Linked DNA regions of Homo sapiens: region 2 is linked to region 1. Evidence: fine-mapped expression QTL. A gene starts in region 1. The other region holds a variant in brackets. All regions are shown on one strand. Distances are from middle to middle.

Region 1 (4,384 bases):
CTTCTGTGAAAAATGTGCTAAGATTCTGGCTCTTCCTCCCTGAACAGCTTGGTATGTGGACCAAGAATGGGCACACAAACATCATTTAAATACATGTGTTAAGTAAAATGTATGGAGGCCATTGGTTTTGTCTGAGCTCCTACACAAGGCCAACAGACCAGACCAAAATGGAGTCACTCATGCTGAAGTTCCACACCACCAGGCCCAAACGAAGGTTATCTGACCTTCCAAGAATCAGGAGAGAGACAATAGCTGGAGCCCCAGACAGGCCAGTTTCAGCGGGCATGATAAGGAAGTTCCCTCAGCTCTATCCTTTACAAGGAAAATAAATTGAAATGACTAATCCCCTTTTGTTTTCTGTTTCTCTCAGCCCCATTCTGTCTATAAAGCCAAACTCCTCTGCTCGGCTCATCAGATCATTCATTGTATTCTATAAGTGGGGTGTTGCCCAATTCTAGAATTGCAAATAAAAGCCAATTAAGATCTTTAAGATAAATTTTTTATAATTTTGTCTTTTGACATATGTAAAACAGGAAGCAATATCAACACATATAGGTCATCCCTGTGGTGCCGCCTCTCCACAGAGCCCCGTGCTAGAGCTGTGGATGCAGCAGGCCCCAAGACAGCCGCCTGGGGAGGATTCTCTTAGAGGTGGCATCTGAGGACAGACGTAGGGCCCCCAGCAGGTCCAGGGAGATGGGGTGGGCTGATGAGCTGAGTGGTTCCTAACAATGATTCACTGAGGGTGTGTGTGAATCTCTGAACTAAAATCCTAAACAAAGTGCAGGGTTCTGATAAATTAGAGCAAAATTCAAGTCCAGGGTTACAAAGTGGAGCCTGAAGGGGAGGCCTCGTCATGGAGAATTTGGGGGATCTGGGTTGGGGGCCCCACACCCACCAGCTGTCTGACCTGGGCCAGCTCTCACAATCTCTGTGTCTCAAGTTTCGTCCTCTGTGAAATGGGGATGGGACACACACCACCTGGACAGCTCAAGGGGGACAGCCCATGTGAGCCCCGGTGCGGTCCCTCTCCTCAGCCACCTCTTCCCCCACCCCCCCCCCCACCACACCCCAGACCTGTCCTGCCTCTCCCTAGGGTCCCAGCCTTCCAGAGGTGACTAAAGCCAATTGCCCAAGGTACATGGGTAAGGCGGATAAGCCTGGGCTTTGGAGTCGAATCCGGCTCTGCTTCTTCCCGTGGGCACCTTCGCTTCCATGGTCCTCAGTCTCTGTGTCCATAAAATGGAGGCAATTCCACCACTGTGTTGCGAGGACGCAGTGGGATGTCACACACGGCACAGCTGACATCTGGCAGGGGCTCATCATGGGACCCAGGCTATCCATGATGTCCCATGATTCCACAGTGAGGCCCTCTAGCTGTGAGGAGGCTTCAGGGTGGGAGCAGCCTTGGCACCTGCCGTTCCCCTCCTGCAGGGAGTTTGCCCTTCTACAGCAGAGGGCTAGACAGCTTCTCCCCCTCCTCCTCCTCCTCAGCCCCCCAGGTGCTGCCCTTCAGCCCGATGGACTGAGTCCCCTGCTGCGGTTTCTGGTTTCCAGGCTCCTGAAGGGCTTCTCCACTCTCTATCCCTCAGACCTGTTCCATCTTATTTCCAGGGGACCTGCCTCCTGCCCAGCGACCCTCTTCAGAGAGGTGACCCCCTACTCCCCGCTGGCAGACACGCCCCCGGCACGCCCTTACCTTGTCAGGATGGGGGTCTGGCTGACTCCCCTTCCCCTCCACCCTGGGCACCCTGAAAGAGCCAGGAAAGGAGGCAATGTTGGGACTCCGGGTGTGTCAGGGAGTAAGGGACAGAGGAAGAAGAGGTAGGGCTCCAAGAGGAAATGACTGGGAGCACTCTGGGCCCACGTAATTTATTACAGGACTTTGTCCCTGGGCTCCAGGCACTTCCACTCCCACACGCCTCCCTCAGCCCCAGCTGGCAGAGCCTCATGATACCTGCTCTTTAACCCAGGCCCCTTCTGCAGAGCAGCGATGCATGCTGCCCGGAGGCCACCAGGGTTTGCAGTCTGTGCACCTGCTCTGGCCACCAGCCAGATCCCATGGTGACAGTCAGCTGACCATCCGGGGGCTCAGCATCTTCCCAGGTGCTGCATGGCAGGAGCTCTGCCCCCAAGCACCCCAAGCTCTAATTGAGGGTGGTAGTATAATATAAAATACAGTATATTTGGTCCTTGTTCCCGGTTGGTGTCACAGAACTCCTAAAACCCTTAGAATTTCCAAAGTGATCGTCGGGCATGGTGGCTCACGCCTGTAATCCCAGCATTTTGGGAGGCCGAGGCAGGCGGATCACAAGGTCAGGAGATCAAGACCATCCTGGCTAACACGGTGAAACCCCATCTCTACTAAAAACACACACACAAAAAAATTAGCTGGGCGTGGTGGCGGGCGCCTGTAGTCCCAGCTGGAGGTTGAGGAAGGAGAATGGCGTGAACCGGGGAGGTGGAGCTTGCAGTGAGCCAAGATCGGGCCACTGCACTCCAGCCTGGGTGACAGAGCGAGACTCCGTCTCAAACAAACAAACAAACAAAAAATTTCCCAAGTGATCATCTCATAATGAGTCCGTTTGATAACACCTGAAGTTATGCTGAGGAGGTGACCATGTGGGGGCCCTACCTAGCCTCAGCATGGGGTCAGTCACCAGAAAGACCTAGTGAATAGAGGGTTGGAACTTTCAGCCCCGCCTACTGACCTCTGGGAAGGTAAAACTCTTGAACAAGATTTGACAAGCTTCCACACATCTGAGGTCCCTGGGGGGTGGCATGCGGGAGAGGGCATGGAAGCTCCATGACCTTCCCACACAACTCACCTGTGCGTGTTTATTCGGCTGCTCATCTGTAATCCTTTGTAAAATCTTTTCCCACGAACTGGTCAATATGAGTGCCGTCCTGAGTTCCATGAGCTATGCTAGCAAATCCAACCTCAGGTGTGGGGCATGGGAACCCCGATTTATAGCCAATTGGTCAGAAGTATAGGTGGCAACCTAGGACTTGAGACTGCATTTGAAGTGGGGCAGTTTTGTGGGACTGAGCCCTTAACCTGTGGGATCTATGACTCCAGGTTGACAGTGTCTGATTGAATTGAATTATAGGACATCCAGACGGAGTCTGCTGGAGAACTGCTTGGACACCTGGTCAAGAGAGTGTTCTGTGTTGAGTGTGAAAGGAGCATACACCTGGGACATGTCTGGGGCCATCAGGAAGCCTTAGAGACAAAGGCCATCAGACAACAAGGTTCCCAGGAGGGTACCTGGCAACAAATTGGGCAGGCTTGGGCTGGCACTTGATCAAGGGGGATTTGGGCTTAAGGCAAATACAGACTGTTTAGAAGGGAAGTGCAACCGCAGTGGGCCCTGGGTGGGGTCAGACTGGAGGGGCCAGGCAGTCCCTGGAAGTGAGCAGGAGGGCGAGGGGAGCTCATTTATGCAAGGCTTTGAAGGCGGGTGGATAATAGGGGCAGGTAGTTACCTGGTCAGCCACAGGCCTTGTGTTGGGTAAAAAAGGGGTCTGGTCATCCTTACAGTTGGCCCAACTAGAGCCAATCAGATTCCTTTCTTTTCCTTGGACTTGGAGGGACTTGGGAACTGCAGGCAGAAATGTGGGAATGAGCCATCGTCTTTTAGAACTGAGGTCAAGGCAGGGTGGCAACCCTGAACATGGACCTTTCGTGGGGACACAGACCAAGCGGTGGTGGGAGAGAAAAGGAGAGGTGGACAAGCTGCAGAGGTGGAGACCCAGTGGCTCCAGAGACAGGAGGAGACCCCCGATGCCTCAGGGTTTCCTGTGCCTCCTGTGGGTGGGCTCCATGGAGTCCCCAGTTTCCGTCTATTAAATGTTCTCTTTGTTGACATGGCTTGAAGGAGTTTCTGTATCTTAAAACCAAATGGCCCATCCCAAAGACAGGGAACCAAGCTGGGAGATCCCTTGAAGGACCACTTGGAGGGAGCTGCATGTTCCGAGTCTTTCAGGCGGCCCCCTGTCCCGCCTGTTCCCCCTAGAACAGCCCCCCAAGTTCTGCCCTTGCTCTGACTAGCCTCCTGCTCCCTAAAATTTGGTTCGGTTTCTGGGTCCACACTCAGCCTTTTTGAGCTTCATGCTGCACATGGTTTCTCGGGTTTAGAAAGATACCATTTAGCTCCTCTAGGGCTGACGCTGCTGCTCCTGGCAGCTCCCAGAGATGGTGAACCCCTTGCTCTGGGGCTGAGACTGAGTCCTCTTCGGACCTTTTCTACTGCCCTCATGTAAGAAAATATTGGGACAGAAAATCTGTGTGGACCAAAACAATCTGTAAGATGTTCCCATCCAGTTCTCACCTTATGCAAAATTTGACAGAAACACATTTTAGATACTGACCTGCTATTCTCTG
Region 2 (4,384 bases), 110 kb before region 1:
GAGGACACTTGCTGTAGGGTCCTTGTGTCCTGCCCTGTATAATGAGGCCCCATTTGGGCACACAGAATAAATCATGGCCTTTATCTGGAGCGAGGAACAGCTGCAGGAGCCTCATAATGGGGCGCTGTCCTGTCCGTGAGGATGCGGCTCAGCTCAGAGGCCGGGTGCTCGCCGGTGCAGCTCCCCTTCTGCACGGAAGCCCATGAATCTGACCGCTGGCCTGGGGCTCCTCCCTGGGGTGGCTCCGGGCTGGGGTGCCTTTGAATGCTGCCGGCGGCCGCCTCTGAGACTGAGTGAACAAAGTTCATTTCTCTCTGTCTTTCTGAAAATGATACATCCAGCAACATGGGAAACCAAATCACCCTTCCTGGTTTCAAAAGACTTTACATTTTGTTGTTTAAACATTGAAAACTGTATGTATGTGGCTAGCATTTAAGGGGCAGTGTCTTAAATTTGTCTCTTCACATCACCCTGTGCAGCTGGGATTATTGCCCCATTTTACAGACAAGGAAACTGAGGCTCAGGCAAATGAAGAAACTCACCCATCAACAAACAGTAGGAAGCAACAGAGCCAGGATTTGAACCCAAGCACATGTCACTCCAGAACTTAGGCTCCGTGTGTGTGTGTGTTTTGTTTTTCTGCTGCATTTTGAATTTAGAATTCTTAGATTTGATCCTAATTCAACCTGAAAAAGAATTCTGAAGGCCACCTTTAGATCTGATGCTGTGATCTGGTCTGTTGAGAAGCTGTTTCCCATCTGGACTTCCTTCAAGAGAGATGGGCTTCCCAGTTTGTCTGGCCTGAGAGCCAGCTGGGTGTGAGGTGTCTGAGCCGGGGCGCAGGTCTCTTTCCTGTTGTGCCCGCAGGCGGCTGTCTGGAAGAACTGGCCCAGGCTGGTTGGAAAGGTGGTGGCTTGAAGCTAACCACCCTGAGCAGGGCATTTCTGGGCTCACAGACCTTCTGTTATTGGGGTGATCACTGTCGATGGCTTCAAGGGCATTGACCGTGGTGATGGAGTTTTGAGGCGTTGAGCTGATTCCTGCATCTTTGAGACAGAAATAATTCCTCGTGGGTTGAGTGTTGTCCTGACGCTCAGGAGGAGTCACCAGAATGTGGAGTGGGGTCATGGGGCCTACATGCTGAGTCTGGGACAGAGGCACCGCAGGGGGCATGGGCTGGCCGCCATAGGCGCCAGGTGGGGCAGCTCAGCCCCAGACCTGCTGAGGAGGTGGCCTGGGGTTGGGGCTGGGGCACAGGTGTCTGGGCAAGGGTGGGCTTCAGGGATTGTGGTGATGAAGACTGAAGCCACAGGCCACAACTGCTTCCCGTCGCTGGGGTGTAAGAGCCAGGGCTCTGGCCAGTAGTCGAGGGGAGATGATGCCCACCGAGGCTCCCTTCCTCTCTTGTAGAGTCATTCATTCACCGAGGCATTCGGTCAGCTGACCCTGAGCTGTTGCCCCCTGCTGGGCACATAGGGTCTTGGGGAGGCACAGAGAGCCAGTCGGCAGCTTAGCCAGTGACTGCTGGGCCTTTGTTTGGGCCCCTTGCCCTGCACACAGCTGATGATGAGACACCCCAGGGCAGATGGAGCACAGTGCTGTGCAGGATGGAGTCCAGACACCCAGCAGTAGCAGGTCCTGGGGTCCAGGGAGGGATGCTGAATGGGTGGCCCTGGCATCTGGGGTCTGCCCACCATAACCTGGGTGGGGATCTTGGGTCTGCGATTGGATCTCTTCCGTATCCTCCCTGACCAGCCTGTCAGAGGGGCCAACACTGGGCGTCGGGCAGCCGTGGAGGCTCGTGAGGAGTGGAGAGGGCCCCTGGGGCTGGGGGGCCTGGGAAGGGAGGCCTGGATGCAGCAGGAGCACCAGAGAGAGATTCGGGTGGCAGGTGGAGACGGGGGCCAGGGAGGTTGGATTGGGGCCTTTGTGTATCTTTGCCTGGGGACTCTGAATCTAGATTCCTGCCACCTTTGAGGTCCAAGGAAACAGAAACCATGTTGATTTGTCTCTCCGTTGAGAACACAGCTGTCGTCCAACACAGCGAGTAGCATCAGAAATTATTCTGAGGTCTTCACAAAAAGACTCTGTAGTGACAGTTCCTGGGTTTGGGGGCCTCCATCTGACATAGCAGTGCTTGTCTTTGGAGACAGAAATCGCCTGTACGTGTTTGGGCCCTTCTTCATCTGGCAAACCCCGAAGGAAGGGGGTGAGTGGGCCTCCCGGGACACTCACTGGCCACTCTGCTGGGCACAGTGACACTCATTATAACTCGTGTGTGTTAAA[T/C]ACATTGGGAAAATAATGCTTTCAGCAGATATCAATTAAATGTCTACTGTATTCTGCAGCATGCCCCAGGCTTAGAGAAAGTAGAAAGAGGAAAATACCATCCAGAGACAGTAACCTCGAGCATTCTGGCATCTTTCCTGCTGAGCATGCGTCCCATTCCCAGGACACACTTGTGACCTTCTGGGCCTTGTGACAGGGCAGTCTGCTTTCCCATACCCTGGGCTGAGCCCCTTTGAAGCCCCCAGCTGCTCAGTGAAGTTGCAGGGGTCTGGCCTCTCTTCTCCTGGAGGTGGCCAGGCTGTGTGGGAGTGGGGGCTCTGCCCCTAATGCCCCCGCCTCCCGCAGGCATCTCTGCCGGCCTTGCCACAACCGTGAGAAGGCCAAGGGCCTGGGCAAGTACATCTGCCAGCGGTGCCACCTGGTCATCGACGAGCAGCCCCTCATGTTCAGGAGCGACGCCTACCACCCTGACCACTTCAACTGCACCCACTGTGGGTAGGTGCGCAGCCCGGCCCTGCAGTTGTGGGGGCGGGGAGCCAGGGCTGGCCCAGGGTAAGGGCGGTGGGGCCTCCACCTGGGGAAGTGTTGAGGAGGGAGAGGGGAGCAGGGTGGGCAGACAGAGGGGTCCCGAGAGCAAGGCTGCAGGGCAGAGGTGGGCTGGGGGCTGGGAAGCAGCCATGGCAGGAAGCTTCTCTCTCCAGGGCTCTGTTTGGGGGGCACTTGAGACTCAGGAGGCGGGTGGGCTGGACCCCTAGACTGCAGACGAGGGTTGAGATGGAGCAGTGGAAGGGACCTGAGGGGGCAGGGCAAGAGACCGGGAGTGGGCTTGGTGCTGGTGTTGGAGAGAGGAGTTGCATAGGCAGCCCCTCAGCCCCCGTCCTCGCCCACCCCCACCGTCCCCTCCAGTCCTCTCCGTGCCTATCCAGACACCCCCTCTGGTTTGGAGGAGGAGGGGGGCCCAAGAACAGACCTGCTTCTCAGAGGCCTGGGTGCAGAACACAGCCCACTCTTCTGGGCTGTGCAGGAAGTCTGTGCTCCAGGGCCTGTCTGGGGCACAGGAAGTCTTCAAAGTGCCCAGAGATCAGAAGGCGCTGCCGCCTCGGCTCTGCAGGGACAGAATGGGCCCCTCGGGGAGCCGTGCCCTGGGGTGGAGGCGCTGCTGGCATGACCCTGCAGAAGGGCAGGGGTGGCACCTGGGGGCTGCACGCTGTCTTCCAGGAAGGAGCTGACAGCCGAGGCCCGCGAGCTGAAGGGTGAGCTCTACTGCCTGCCCTGCCATGACAAGATGGGCGTCCCCATCTGCGGGGCCTGCCGCCGGCCCATCGAGGGCCGAGTGGTCAACGCGCTGGGCAAGCAGTGGCACGTGGAGGTGAGCCAGGCTGGTGGACACGTGGCCTCAGGTTGGGGGGTGCCCCAGCTCAGGGTCATGGTAAGAGCCCTAAAGCTCCTCCACACTCCCAGCCCAGGGCGGGTGGCTGGCTCCCAACGAGGCCCTTCCTCAGGGGTACTGCCCCTCCCTGTGCTCAGCCAGGGACCCCAGCCTGCCCACGGGAGCCAGGAGACCCGAGTGCACACACACGGTTGGGTAGCTGTGCCCACCTCTCCTCTTCCCCCTGCTGGCATTCTAAGAGACTCCAAGGTCAGGAGAAAACCTTGGGGGCAGTCTGTCCAGAGTGCCTGGGGGTTGTGGATGACAGAACCCGCTGCATGGACAGCCCTGTGCAGACACGGAGCTGAAGAGTTCCTCAGGTGTGAGCACTGGGTCACCTGGAGTGCCCCCACCGGGTGGTGGGCTCTCATGTTCTCATGGGTACACTGGGAACAGTGAGCCCACCACCTCCCCTGATGACCTGGCCAGCGCTGTGTCCGGAAGCTGTGCCTTGGGTGGCGGCTTGGGTGGGAGGCCATGCGGTCCTGCCCTGATGCAGGCCCCAGCCCCCAGCCCTCATCCTCACATGCAGATCCCTGGGGGAATGCAAGGTGCTGCTCAGTGATCCCAGGCTTGCAGGGGGTGCCTGCAGGAGGCCCCACGTGGACAGGCAGGGCCGCCTCTGCCTATGAGGGCCCACCATGCCGCAGCACCAGGCTGGCACCTGAC

Alleles and levels. Alleles are on the strand shown, and positions count from the first base shown. SD is a standard deviation of normalised expression in the study named.
For the expression in atrial appendage of the gene that starts at base 1,848 in region 1, C is the low allele of the variant in region 2 and T is the other (moderate effect, 0.41 SD a copy in GTEx).

Evidence for each region. PIP is the estimated chance that this variant, and not a neighbour inherited with it, causes the effect.
Region 2: its variant is fine-mapped to the expression of MYO7B in atrial appendage (GTEx, PIP 0.98).

Annotation. Positions count from the first base shown.
Region 1 is chr2:127,533,147-127,537,530 of GRCh38, reverse strand. It overlaps MYO7B (myosin VIIB), which reads right to left and starts at 1,848. Exons shown (of 48, transcript NM_001393586.1): 1 at 1,700-1,848. RefSeq lists an enhancer at 966-1,816.
Region 2 is chr2:127,641,320-127,645,703 of GRCh38, reverse strand. LIMS2 (LIM zinc finger domain containing 2) reads left to right here. Exons shown (of 10, transcript NM_001161403.3): 5 at 2,632-2,781; 6 at 3,505-3,655. Among named protein-coding and RNA genes, the nearest start is that of GPR17, 2.6 kb to the left of the region's middle. The variant T/C (reference allele first, on the strand shown) is at 2,287.